Homo sapiens: one gene and its partner. Changing the gene in region 1 together with any one later gene gives a genetic interaction. Each region holds a gene or a part of one and is shown in the gene's direction. Other genes may lie near its edges.

The links. Genes that interact genetically often act in the same process or in processes that back each other up.
Region 2: of TLR4 (region 1) and ECSIT, changing one suppresses a phenotype caused by changing the other (phenotypic suppression), as found in Homo sapiens cells (one study listed by BioGRID).

Annotation. Positions count from the first base shown.
Region 1 is NC_000009.12:117,707,355-117,714,479, forward strand, and holds part of TLR4 (toll-like receptor 4 isoform A precursor), read left to right. Parts: intron 1-844; exon of another isoform or gene 845-964; intron 965-1,208; coding exon 1,209-1,375; intron 1,376-5,034; coding exon 5,035-7,125.
Region 2 is NC_000019.10:11,519,135-11,526,134, reverse strand, and holds part of ECSIT (evolutionarily conserved signaling intermediate in Toll pathway, mitochondrial isoform 1 precursor), read left to right. Parts: intron 1-2,281; exon of another isoform or gene 2,282-2,779; intron 2,780-3,584; exon of another isoform or gene 3,585-4,204; intron 4,205-6,941; 5' UTR 6,942-6,964; coding exon 6,965-7,000.

The DNA of each region.
Region 1 (7,125 bases):
AAAGTATATAACAAACAAGAACTATGCAGGCATATGGTAAGGGATTAATGATAGATGATAATAATTAATGTTGACATCTATTGATCACTTATACTGTAGCGGGCTTTTAAATAAACTCTTTAAACACCTTATCTCATTTAATCCTTCAAACATTCTATTGGTTTCAAACAACAGAAAACTACAATTAGCTGGCTTCTGCAAGGAATTTTGTTGGAGGAAATGAGAGCATTCAGAAATTAGATGGGAGCGTTAGAGAATTAGGCTTACAAAGAATGTGGGAAAGTAGGCTAGAAAGCAGTGTAAAAACAAAGACAGCATAAAGCACTTGACCTTATTTACTAGGTTCCACCATGGGAATCCATGCACTCTAAAGATTTCCCCCTATTTCTACATCACTTTGCTCAAGGGTCAATGAGCCAAGAAAAAGAATGCAGTTGTCAAAATCTGGGCCATGACTAAGGAAGGTCTGGACATCTTGACTGCCAGACAGTCTCCCCAATGATATGGAGTATTTAAAATGATACTGGATATTTTATTTATTTTTTGTATTTTCAACTTTTAAGTTCAGAGGCACATGTGCAGAGCATGCAGGTTTATTACATAAGTAAATGTGTGCCATGGTGATTTGCTGCATAGATCATGAAAATATGGAACGCATCATGGATTTGTGTGTCATCCTTGTGCAGGGGCCATGCTCATCTTCTCTGTATCCTTCCAATTTTAGTGTATGTGCTACTGCAGCAAGCACGATATTGGATATTTTATTACCTACATTTTACATATGATAAAATGAGGCTCACTGAGGTTTTTCTTTTGTTCGTTTTATTTTGTTTTGTTTTTAAAGACTTGGCCCTAAACCACACAGAAGAGCTGGCATGAAACCCAGAGCTTTCAGACTCCGGAGCCTCAGCCCTTCACCCCGATTCCATTGCTTCTTGCTAAATGCTGCCGTTTTATCACGGAGGTTAGAATGCTGAGCACGTAGTAGGTGCTCTTTACTTTCTAATCTAGAGTAAGACAATTTATAAGCATGAATTGAGTGAATGGATGGATGGATATATGGATGGAAGGATGGACAGATGGATGAAAGGTTGACTGAATTTTGTGCTTGCACAAAAAGAGGCCCCTCTCCACCATCTCTGGTCTAGGAGAGGGGAGTTGGGAGACCATGCAGTAAAGATACTTCATGTCATGTGTAATCATTGCAGGTGGTTCCTAATATTACTTATCAATGCATGGAGCTGAATTTCTACAAAATCCCCGACAACCTCCCCTTCTCAACCAAGAACCTGGACCTGAGCTTTAATCCCCTGAGGCATTTAGGCAGCTATAGCTTCTTCAGTTTCCCAGAACTGCAGGTGCTGGATTTATCCAGGTAATGAATCCACTTTTACATACTGCACAAGGTGAGGTGTTCATTGTCCTGTCATTTCATTATTGGACTGGAAAGCTTGGTTTGTGGAGTCTCATCTTCATTCACTTATTCATTCATACAACAGATGTCTTATTAACTATATAACCTTGAGCAAGCTACCTCTATTCTCCAGGTCTCAGTTTTCTAATCTGTGAAGTAGGCAGTTGGCTGAGACAGCTTCTAAGGGCAATTCTAATTTTAGGTTTTCTTTTAAGACAGGAGAGAAAATTAGCTTAAATTCTTTCATAAGCAGCTATTTATTGACTACTTGCTATATGTTGTACACTCTGCAAGAAGACAGGCATATATTGATATATAACACACAGCCCCTGTTGTTAAGGAGGCATATCTTCTTGAAAGAGTTAATACCTTAAAGTCCTGGGTATGGTCCTGGGTACATAGTATATAGTCAACACATTTTAATTATGATTTTTTGGATCTGGAAACTGATATAAAGATAGCGACATATAACAGTAGGTGATAAATTATGTTTAAACTAAAGGTAACTAATTGTATTTTTCAGAAGAGGGGCCTTCTCTGTGGTGGGTAGTCAAGAAAGATTTCATGAACTGCATAAGATTCAAACAATGTCTAGAATATTAAAACTAGTGTACAGGATAGGGAATTAGGAAAAGACAAGTAACCCAAGGAGAAAGATGTCAAGATTAAAGGAAAACATCTGCTGTGGGCAGGGAATAATGGCTAAGATTTTCTTTTCTGATGCAGGGAAGTATATCGTTTGTTGTGGCAGGTGAAATGTCATCTTGATATTTTAGGGGAACCAAATTCTAAAAGGGTTTTCATCATCGGGGCCTTATTTGCAAATCGAACTAGATAATGGATCATGTTCTCTGCAATGGTTTGTAAAACATTTCAAAACATTTTACATATTTTTTATTATAGAAATTATTGATAAAGACTAAGGTCACAGTATAAAAATCCTTTTTAGAGCAGACATTTCTGTAGAAGAGTGAGCATACGACCTATTATACTCTAATTTGGATATAGATAGGATGTAACAAAGGAGTAATGGAACAATTCAAAGGCAGTGGTATAGTGCATAGAGTCCTGTTGGGGTCAGAAGACCTGAGCCAAGTTTACCCCCAACCTTTATAACCATGTAACCTTAGGCATATTACTTCATCTCCCTTAATCTTAGTTTTCATATCTGATCAATGGAAATGATGAAACTTATTCTGCTGGATTAAATGTGATAATAAATATTAATATGCTGTATATATTTAAATTTTTATAAAATATATTTTATAAGCATAAAGTATTCTTACAGAATTTCATTAGGTTTTTAAAATAATTTCAACTTTTATTTTTGATTCAGGGATTTACATGGTTATATTGCGTAATGCTGAGGTGTAGGGTACAATCGATACCATCACTCAGGTAGTGAGCATAGTACCCAATAGTTAGTTTTTCAACCCTTGCTGCTTTCTCTCTATCCCCTCTCTAGTAATCCCCAGGGTCTATTTTTGTCATCTTTATGTCCATGTGTACTCCATGTTTGGATCCTACTTATAAAGTGAGAACTCATGGTATTTGGCTTTCTGTTCCTTTGTTAATTTGCTTAGGATAATGGCTACTAGCTGCATCTATGCCATTATGTTCTAAATTTCAGTTTCCTGCATGAAAATTTTGTCAAGTACTCTATTAAGGTAGACCACCTCTCCCTTTTTTTTTTTTTCAAACAAGAAGTAGTTTTTCACCAAACAATGTCTCTTATGTAATTCATCTTCAATCCACTGGATACCCAATAAACTTGCCCCAGAAACCTTAAATCTGTGCTTACAGAGAGGCCAGCTTCCCTTCTTGTTAACCCATAGGAGATTCTGAATTAGGGCAAGCACAAAAGATAGCACAATAGACATCCTTTGCCTTTTCGTACAGTGTTCACATACAGTAACTCAACTAGTCTTGTAAGAATGCTTTGTGATAGACCAGGCAGCCTTCTTTCCCCTATAGAAATATATATATATTTCTTTTTATAGGTGAGGAAACTGAAGCTTGAATAATTTAAATGACTTATATACATTATCATTGCTTGTTAGCCACAGACCAGAGATTTAAGTTCACATCTCCAGAATCCAACTTAAATGTTTTCTTTGTCTTAATACTCTACTTCTCTAAAGTGATTATCACCAATGTAATGATATAGAGACACAGCAAGACCCTTTCCTTCTCACCTAATGTATAGAGCAATGCAGAGATAGAATGATGGGCTATAACAATCATATAATTGAAAGAAAGAACTTCAAAAATAATCAAGTTCAGCTGTTTGATTTATAAATGTGATAACTAAAACCTAGAGAGGAAAAGAGGTACTCAAGATCACACAGTAGGAGAGGACTGCAGAAACACCAAACCCAAGCTCTTTTGTCCACTCTTCCAGCGTTCTTTCTACTATACTGCCTATCCTTTATCTAGTTACCAATAAATAACAAAAGCTTGGACCACAATGCTTTTATTGTCTAGGAAACTCCTGAAGAAGCTAAATAAAATGGGTGGGGAATATTGTAAATGTAATTCAGGCTGGATTAAGAAAGAACTTATTTGTACATTGTAACTGACAAGCACCTGCAATGCTGAAAGGAATTTTTCATTGGCTTGCTGTTTGCTGGCTGCATCAAAGCCCTGTCTCTAGGACATGTCTCTGAACATTGTGTGTAGCATGGCTTTCATTTCTTTTAGGATAAAATTCAAAACCCTTTATCTGGTTGGTAAACCTCTGCCTAATTGGGAACCTTCTTTCTCCACAACTCCATATTGTACACTCCAATTTCATCTCTGTTCTCCAACCATGGAAGCTATTTGTCATGATTCCTCCTTGTGTCATTTTTTTTCTGTCAACCTTGGGGCTTTTGTGTTTGCTGTTCACTTCACCTCCTTTTATTGTTAACTTCTACTCATCTTTCAATTTTCAACTTAAGTGTTCTCAGAGAAACCTACTTTGATTTTCTTGGTCCACAACGGTTCTCTGGATGTGAACTCTTATAGCACATAATTTTCACTTTTTTCCACAAAACTCGCTCCTATCACCTGTTACAAGCATTTACCTCTGATAACAAGAACTTTCAAATATCTAGCTGTCATGTAAGCACTTTTCATAAACATTAAGAGTATCTGTGACACTTATGTGTAATTTTTCGTATCTCTGAAATTGATATTTACCAGTCATTTATCTTGGCTACCAACTAACAACTATCCATATTATCTGTACCAATCAGATGTATAATCACAATTTTGTGTGACAGAAAATGGCTAAACTTGATCCAAGGCTATTACATGCTTTATCAACTGCACAATCTTTATATATGTCAATTATTGATCTTTAACTGATTTCCTTCTTATGGATTTTCTCCTCTGCTTATCATGTATGCCTAACATGACAAAAAAGAGCCTATCATTGCAGCCAGTATGATAATACTCAGTCTGTGGGGCTTCTTATTTGCTTATTCCATCATCATCTGTCCTGCTTGATGTCTTTGCCTATGCACAATCATATGACCCATCACATCTGTATGAAGAGCTGGATGACTAGGATTAATATTCTATTTTAGGTTCTTATTCAGCAGAAATATTAGATAATCAATGTCTTTTTATTCCTGTAGGTGTGAAATCCAGACAATTGAAGATGGGGCATATCAGAGCCTAAGCCACCTCTCTACCTTAATATTGACAGGAAACCCCATCCAGAGTTTAGCCCTGGGAGCCTTTTCTGGACTATCAAGTTTACAGAAGCTGGTGGCTGTGGAGACAAATCTAGCATCTCTAGAGAACTTCCCCATTGGACATCTCAAAACTTTGAAAGAACTTAATGTGGCTCACAATCTTATCCAATCTTTCAAATTACCTGAGTATTTTTCTAATCTGACCAATCTAGAGCACTTGGACCTTTCCAGCAACAAGATTCAAAGTATTTATTGCACAGACTTGCGGGTTCTACATCAAATGCCCCTACTCAATCTCTCTTTAGACCTGTCCCTGAACCCTATGAACTTTATCCAACCAGGTGCATTTAAAGAAATTAGGCTTCATAAGCTGACTTTAAGAAATAATTTTGATAGTTTAAATGTAATGAAAACTTGTATTCAAGGTCTGGCTGGTTTAGAAGTCCATCGTTTGGTTCTGGGAGAATTTAGAAATGAAGGAAACTTGGAAAAGTTTGACAAATCTGCTCTAGAGGGCCTGTGCAATTTGACCATTGAAGAATTCCGATTAGCATACTTAGACTACTACCTCGATGATATTATTGACTTATTTAATTGTTTGACAAATGTTTCTTCATTTTCCCTGGTGAGTGTGACTATTGAAAGGGTAAAAGACTTTTCTTATAATTTCGGATGGCAACATTTAGAATTAGTTAACTGTAAATTTGGACAGTTTCCCACATTGAAACTCAAATCTCTCAAAAGGCTTACTTTCACTTCCAACAAAGGTGGGAATGCTTTTTCAGAAGTTGATCTACCAAGCCTTGAGTTTCTAGATCTCAGTAGAAATGGCTTGAGTTTCAAAGGTTGCTGTTCTCAAAGTGATTTTGGGACAACCAGCCTAAAGTATTTAGATCTGAGCTTCAATGGTGTTATTACCATGAGTTCAAACTTCTTGGGCTTAGAACAACTAGAACATCTGGATTTCCAGCATTCCAATTTGAAACAAATGAGTGAGTTTTCAGTATTCCTATCACTCAGAAACCTCATTTACCTTGACATTTCTCATACTCACACCAGAGTTGCTTTCAATGGCATCTTCAATGGCTTGTCCAGTCTCGAAGTCTTGAAAATGGCTGGCAATTCTTTCCAGGAAAACTTCCTTCCAGATATCTTCACAGAGCTGAGAAACTTGACCTTCCTGGACCTCTCTCAGTGTCAACTGGAGCAGTTGTCTCCAACAGCATTTAACTCACTCTCCAGTCTTCAGGTACTAAATATGAGCCACAACAACTTCTTTTCATTGGATACGTTTCCTTATAAGTGTCTGAACTCCCTCCAGGTTCTTGATTACAGTCTCAATCACATAATGACTTCCAAAAAACAGGAACTACAGCATTTTCCAAGTAGTCTAGCTTTCTTAAATCTTACTCAGAATGACTTTGCTTGTACTTGTGAACACCAGAGTTTCCTGCAATGGATCAAGGACCAGAGGCAGCTCTTGGTGGAAGTTGAACGAATGGAATGTGCAACACCTTCAGATAAGCAGGGCATGCCTGTGCTGAGTTTGAATATCACCTGTCAGATGAATAAGACCATCATTGGTGTGTCGGTCCTCAGTGTGCTTGTAGTATCTGTTGTAGCAGTTCTGGTCTATAAGTTCTATTTTCACCTGATGCTTCTTGCTGGCTGCATAAAGTATGGTAGAGGTGAAAACATCTATGATGCCTTTGTTATCTACTCAAGCCAGGATGAGGACTGGGTAAGGAATGAGCTAGTAAAGAATTTAGAAGAAGGGGTGCCTCCATTTCAGCTCTGCCTTCACTACAGAGACTTTATTCCCGGTGTGGCCATTGCTGCCAACATCATCCATGAAGGTTTCCATAAAAGCCGAAAGGTGATTGTTGTGGTGTCCCAGCACTTCATCCAGAGCCGCTGGTGTATCTTTGAATATGAGATTGCTCAGACCTGGCAGTTTCTGAGCAGTCGTGCTGGTATCATCTTCATTGTCCTGCAGAAGGTGGAGAAGACCCTGCTCAGGCAGCAGGTGGA
Region 2 (7,000 bases), on another chromosome or scaffold:
AAATTAGCCAGGCATGGTGGCATGTGCCTGTAATCCCAGCTACTCGGGAGGCTGAGGCAGGATAATTGCTTGAACCCAGGATACGGAGGTTGCAGTGAGCCAAGATTGCACCACTGCACTCCAGCCTGGGCGACAGAGCAAGACTCCGCCTGGGAAAAAAAAAAATGCAGATTCCAGTTCAGTAGGTCTGGGATAGGGCCGAGATTTTGCTTTTTTTTTGAGATGGAGTTTCGCTCTTGTTGCCCAGGCTGGAGTGCAATGGTGTGCTCTTGGCTCACTACAAGCTCTGCCTCCCAGGTTCAAGCAATTCTCCTGCCTCAGCCTCCCAAGTAGCTGGAATTACAAGCATACACCACACCCGGCTAATTTTGTATTTTTTTTTTTTTTTTTTTGTTAGTAGAGACAGGGTTTCTCCATGTTGGTCAGGCTGGTCTCGAACTCCCGACCTCAGGTGATCAGCTGGCCTGGACCTCCCAACGTGCTGGGATTACACACGTGAGTCACCATGCCCGGCCAAATTTTGCTATTCTAATAAACTTCCAAATGTTGCTGACACTGCCAGTCCCTAGAACACACTTTAAGTAGCTGTAGTTTTTTTGTTTTTGTTTTTGTTTTTTTGTTTTGAGTCAGGGTCTTGCTGTGTTGCTCAGGCTGGAGTGTGTGGCATGAACTTGGTTTACTGTAGCTTGGACCTCCCAGGCTCATGTGATCCTCCCACCTCAGCCTCCCAAGGAATGAGAACACAGACAGGTGTATACTACCATGCCTGGTTAATTTTTAAATTTTTTTATAGAGACAGTGTCTGGCTATGTTGTCAGGGCTGGTATTGGACTCCTGGGCTCAACCAGTCCTCCCACCATGGCCTCCCAAAGTGCTAGGATTACAGGCATGAGCCACCGAGCCTGGCCCTGAAAATTTAAATTAAGGTCTTAATCCTAGGTGCATATGAAAGTCATTGCAGTGCTTTTTATGTTTATTTTTATTTATTTATTTTTTTTGAGATGAAGTTGCACTCTGTTGCCCAGGCTGGAGTGCAGTGGTGCAATCTCGGCTCACTGCAACCTCTGTCTCCCAGGTCCAAGTGATTCTCCTGCCTCAGCCTCCCTAGTAGCTGGGATTATAGGCGCCCGCCACCCTGTCCCGCTAATTTTTGTATTTTTAGTAGAGACGGGGTTTCACCATCTTGGCCAAGCTGGTCTTGAACTCCTGACCTTGTGATCCACCCGCCTTGGCTTCCCAAATTGCTGGGATTACAGGCATGAGCCACTGCGCCTGGCCAGAGTGCTTTTTATTTTTTATTTTTTTATTTTTGAGATAGGGTCTCACTCTGTCACCCAAGCCAGAGTGTGGTAGCACAATCATAGCTCATATAACCTTGAACTGCTGGGCTCAAGTGATCGTCCCACCTCAGCCTCCTGAGTAGCTGGGACTACAAATGAGTGCCACCACACCCAGCTGGTATTTTTTTTCTTTCTTTTTTTTTTTTCTTTTTGCTGTTCTTGATCTCCCGGGCTCAAGTGATCCTCCCACTCTGACTTCCCAAAGTGGATAAGAAGCATGAGCCGCTGTGCCCAGCCTTCAGTGGGGTGCTCTATTTATTTATTTATTTTTGAGACGGAGCCTTGCTGTGTCATCCAGACTGGAGTGCAGTGTGGCGCAATCTCGGCTGACTGTAAACTCCACCTCCTGGGTTCAAGCGATTCTCCTGCCTCAGCCTCCCGAGTAACTGGGACTACAGGCGCCTGCCACCACGCCCAGCTAATTTTTATACTTTTAGTAGAGATGGGGTTTCACAATGTTGGCCAGGATAGTCTCGATCTCTTGACCTCGTGATCTGCCCACCTCGGCCTCCCAAAGTGCTGGGATTACAGGCGTGAGCCACCCTGCCAGGCTACTTTTGACACCCCCAAAATCCAGCCAGGTGCAGTGGCTCACCTCTGTAATTCCAGCACTTTGGGAGGCCGAGGTGGGAGGATTGCTTGAGCCCAGGAGTTTGAGATCAGCCTGGAAAATAGAGGGAAACCCAGCCTCTATAAAAATTGTAAAAATTAGTTGAGTGTGGTGGCGCACACCTGTAATCCCAGCTACTCAGGAGGCAGTGGTGGGAGGATTGCTTGAGTTGGGAGGTCAAGTCTGCAGTGAGCCATGATCATACCACTGTACTCCAGCCTGGGCAACAGAGTGAGATCCTGTCTCAAAACAAAAAATCTTAACTACTAATAGCCCACTGTTGTCCAGAGGTCTCAGTGATTACATAACAGTCAATTAACTTATTTTTTTATGTGAGCCAAAGATTTATGTCTTCATTTCTTGCATTTGAAGTACTCTTGGATGACATCCTTGGCCTGAGACTCCTTGCCATAGTCCTTAACTACTACACAACTGCAACCAACCACTTTACAGGGTTTCCCTTCTCTCAATTTTACAGAGCGCTACCCATTCCCCTAGTTTCTTGTTGTCATCAACCTTAATTAAGTTGATTTGGTGCTCAGCACAAAGGGACTCCACCAGCTTGACATACATAGGCTTATCACAGTTGGATCAAGCACACAAAGATGGGCTTGGCGCTTGTCTAAGGCTTTGGCAGCTTCACAGATTCCACGTGCTAGGCCATCGTGGATGAGGGCGGTCTTCAGCACCTCTTGTAAAGCAGTATTAACATCCATTACACCTCCAGCAGCAATGCCTCCCTCGGCCATGGCAGTGGGTTATGGGTGAAGCTGAATCTTGAACATACCCAAGCCTCCGCCTCCGCGCAACTCGGCAGTGGCAGGGAAAGGGTGATTAACATATTTTTTAATGTTATATATATATATAATACTATAATCTTACAATAAGCTGAAGAAAAGAAAATGTTATTAAGAAAATCAGGAAAACACATTGAATTTACTATTCATTAGGTGGAAGTGGATCATCATAAAGGTCTTCATTCTCATCGTCTTCACATTGAGTAAGCTGAGGAGGAGGAGGAAGAGGAGGGGTTGGTCCTGCTGTCTTAGGGGTGGCAGAGGCAGAAGAGGTGGTGGAGGAGGTAGATGGAGAGGCAGGCACATTCAGCTGTAACTTTTTTTTCTTTCACTCTGTCACCCAGGCTGGAGTGCAGTGGTGGGATCTCAGCTCACTGCAAGCTCCGCCTCCCGGGTTCACACCATTCTCCTGCCTCAGCCTCCTGAGTAGCTGGGACTACAGGTGCCTGCCACCACGCCTGGCTATTTTTTTTGTATTTTTAGTAGAGATGGGGTTTCACCGTGTTAACCAGGATGGTCTCGATCTCCTGACCTCGTGATCCACCCGCCTCACCCTCCCAAAGTGCTGGGATTACAGGCGTGAGCCACCGTGCCCGACCTTTTTTCTTTTTACTAGCCCCTCAGTGTTTAAAGTTGTAACTTTTATTTAATTAAATTTAATTAATTAATTTTTTTGAGACAGAGTCTCACTCGGTCACCCAGGCTGGAGTGCAGTGGCGCGATCTCAGCTTACTGTAACATTGCCTCCCAGGTGCAAGCAATTCTCCCACCTCAGCCTCCTGAGTAGCTGGGATTACAGGCATGTACCACCATGACTGGCTAATTTTTTTTTTTTTTACCGGGGCGTTCCTGAGTTTACGTGGGGCACACCTGGGTGAGGGCCCTACCCCTAGAAGAAGGTGTTGGGCCTTTTGGTGGTGAAGCGTGGCTTGTGCTGATGGCGCAGGACCTGGTGGGGCAGCGGGAACTTGATCTTGGAGTCTTGGAACTGCTTGACGGCCAGCCGGTGGGACTTGCTGGCTGCTATCTCCTCCATCTTCATGATCTGGATGGAATGGGTCCAGGTGGGGTACCGGGCGCCCATGTCTCGGTAGCACTGGGTGACAGCGCCCGTGGTGGTCAGGTCCCAATATTCCTGGTACATGTTGTGGGTGCTGCTCTGGGAGTTTGTAGCGCAGCCAGATGCCGAAGTTCTTCACCCGCAGGCGGTACTTCTCGAATGCCTGCCCACAGTTGACAGTCTCCCCGAAGACTTCTTCATCTTCTTTAGCTGAGATACAAAGTACCAGAAGTGGGACTTGGCAACGACATGATCAGGTGCAAAGATTCGCATGTGGTAGAGGGGTGGTGTGTGGCATTTGGGAGTGAGCAGGCAGCAACCCACCACCTTGTACTCTTGTAGTGTGCCCGAGGCCTTCATGGCATCCTCTCCATGCTTGCCGCCACCGGCAAAAGGAGCCTGGCTAATTTTTGTATTTTTAGTAGAGATGGGGTTTTGCCACGTTGGTTGGTTGGTCTTGAACTCTTGACCTCAAGTGATTATCCTGCCTGGCCTCCCAAAGTGCTGGGATTACAGGCGTGAGCCACCACACCTGGTCTTATTCTTATTTTTCAGACAGAGTCTTCCTCTTTCGCCCAGGCTGGAGTGCAGTGGCACGATCTTGGCTCACTGCAGCTTCTGCCTCCTGGGTTCAAGTGATTCTCCTGCCTCCGCCTCCTGAGTAGCTGGGGACTGCAGGAGTGTGCCCCCAGCCTGGCTAATTTTTGTTTTTTTGTTTTTTTAGTAGAGATAGGGTCTCTCCCATGTTGGCCAGGCTGCTCTCGAACTCCTGGCCTCAGGTGATCTGCCTGCTTCGACCTCCCGAAGTGCTGTGATTACAGGCGTTAGCCACCACGTACAGCCATAACTTTTACTGAAAAAAAAAAAAAAAATCCACGTATAAATGGACTTATGCTGTTCAAGCCTTTGTTGATGAAGGGTCAACTGTACGTTGCCGATGGGAATGTGAAATGGTGCAGTCATCCCCAAAAACAGTCTGGCAGTTCCTAAAAATGTTAAACATGTAGTTACCATATGTCTCAGCAGTTTGACTCCTAAGTATATACCCAAGAGAAGTATAAACATGTGTTCACATAAAACTTCTACACGAATGTTCATGGCAGTAGTAGTTATAACAGTCAAAAACATTTGGCAAACAACCCCAAATGTCCATCAATTGATGAATGCATAAATAAAATATGGTTATAGCCATACAAAACCTGGTTATATTCCATTCCAAAAACAGTGGAATTGGCCGGGCATGATTGTAATCCTAGCAATTTGGGAGGCCAAGGTGGGTGGATCACTTGATGTCAGGAGTTCAAGACCAGCCTGGCCAACATGGTGAAACCCTATCTCTACTAAAAATACAAAAATTAGCTGGGTATGGTGGCGGGTGCCTGTAATCCCAGCTACTTGGGAGGCTGAGGCAGGAGAATCACTTGAACCCGGGAGGCAGAGGTTGCAGTGAGCCAAGATCATGCCATTGCAATCCAGCCTGGGCAACAAGAATGAAACTCCATCTCAAAAAAAAAAAAGCCCGGGTGCGGTGGCTCACGACTATAATCCCAGCACTTCGGGAGGCTGAGGCGGACGGATCACAAGGTAAGGAGTTTGAGACCAGCTTGGCAACATGGCGAAACCCCATCTCTACAAAAAAATCTATAAATTAGCTGGATGCAGTGGCACACACCTATAGTCCCAGCTACTCAGGAGGCTGAGGCAGGAGAATCGTGAGCCCGGAAAGCAGAGGTTGCAGTGAGCTGAGATTGTGCCACTGCACTCCAGCCTGGGAAACAAAGCAAGATCCTGTCTAAAAATAAAAATAATAAAAATTAAAAAAAAATCTATGCATGAACCTTGAAAACACGTCAGTGGGCCAGGTGCGGTGGCTCACGCCTGTAATCCCAGCACTTGGGGAGGCTGAGGCTGGCGGATCACTTGAGGTCAGGAGTTCGAGACCAGCCTGGCCAACGTGATAAAACCCCATCTCTACTAAAAATACAAAAATTAGCCGGGCGTGGTGGCATGTACCTGTAATCCCAGCTACTCGGGATGCTGAGGCATGGGAATCGCTTGAATCCGGGAGGCGAAGGTTGCAGTGAGCCGAGATGGCACTATTGCACTTCAGCCTGGGTGACAGAGCGAGACTGCATCTCAGAAAAAAAGAAAAAAGAAAAAAAACATGTCAAGTGAAGGAAACCAATCATAAAGGAGCACTTGTGATTCCAGATTCCATTTGTATGAAATGGCCGGCATAGGGAGATCTATAGAGACAGTGGATGAGTGGTTTCTTGGGGTTGGGAGTGAAGGGAAATTGAGTGCTAATGGGTACAGGGTTTCTTTCTTTTTTTTTTTTCTTCTTTTTTTTTTTTTCTGGAGATGGAGTTTTGCTGTTGTTCCCCAGGCTGAGGTGTAATGGCATCATCTTGGCTCACTGCAACCTCTGCCTCCTGGGTTCAAGCAATTCTCCTACGTCAGCCTTCCCAGTAGCTGGAATTACAGGCGTGCGCCACCATGCTCGGCTAATTTTTTGTATTTTTAGTAGCGATGGGGTTTCTCCATGTTGGTCAGGCTGGTCTCGAACTCCCAACTTCGAGTGATCCGCCCGCCTCAGCCTCCCAGAATGTTGTGATTACAGGCGTGAGCCACCGCGCCTGGCCAGGTACAGGGATTCTTGTTGGAGTGACACAGATTTTGTAAAATTAGATTGTAGTGGCTAGGAGTGCTGGCTCACACCCATGATCCCAGCACTTTTGGAGACAGAGATGGGAGGATCACTTGAAGCCAACAGTTCGAGACCAGCCTGGGCAACACAGCAAGACCCTGGGTCTCTGCAAACTATTTTCAAATTAGCTGGGCATGGTGGCACGCGTCTGTAGTCCCAGCTTCTCGACGCTCTGGGGCTGGAGGATCACTTGGGCCCAGAAGTTGGAGGCTGCATTGAGCTATGATCACGCCCCTGGGGCAGCAGGATTAGGGTGCTGTCCCAAGAACAAAGTCTTTGAGTCATCAGCCTGTTTCTTGGGTAAGGTAAACATTGGGGCTGGTGAGTGAGCCACATAATCTGGAGTGTGCCCTCGACCCTGCGGGGCCCTTGCGTCTGTTAGCATCTGTAAGGTGCCAGGCTAATGCTGAATCTTCTTTTGGGCCAGGTGATTGTCTGACAAGCAGAGGCATGAGCTGGGTCCAGGCCACCCTACTGGCCCGAGGC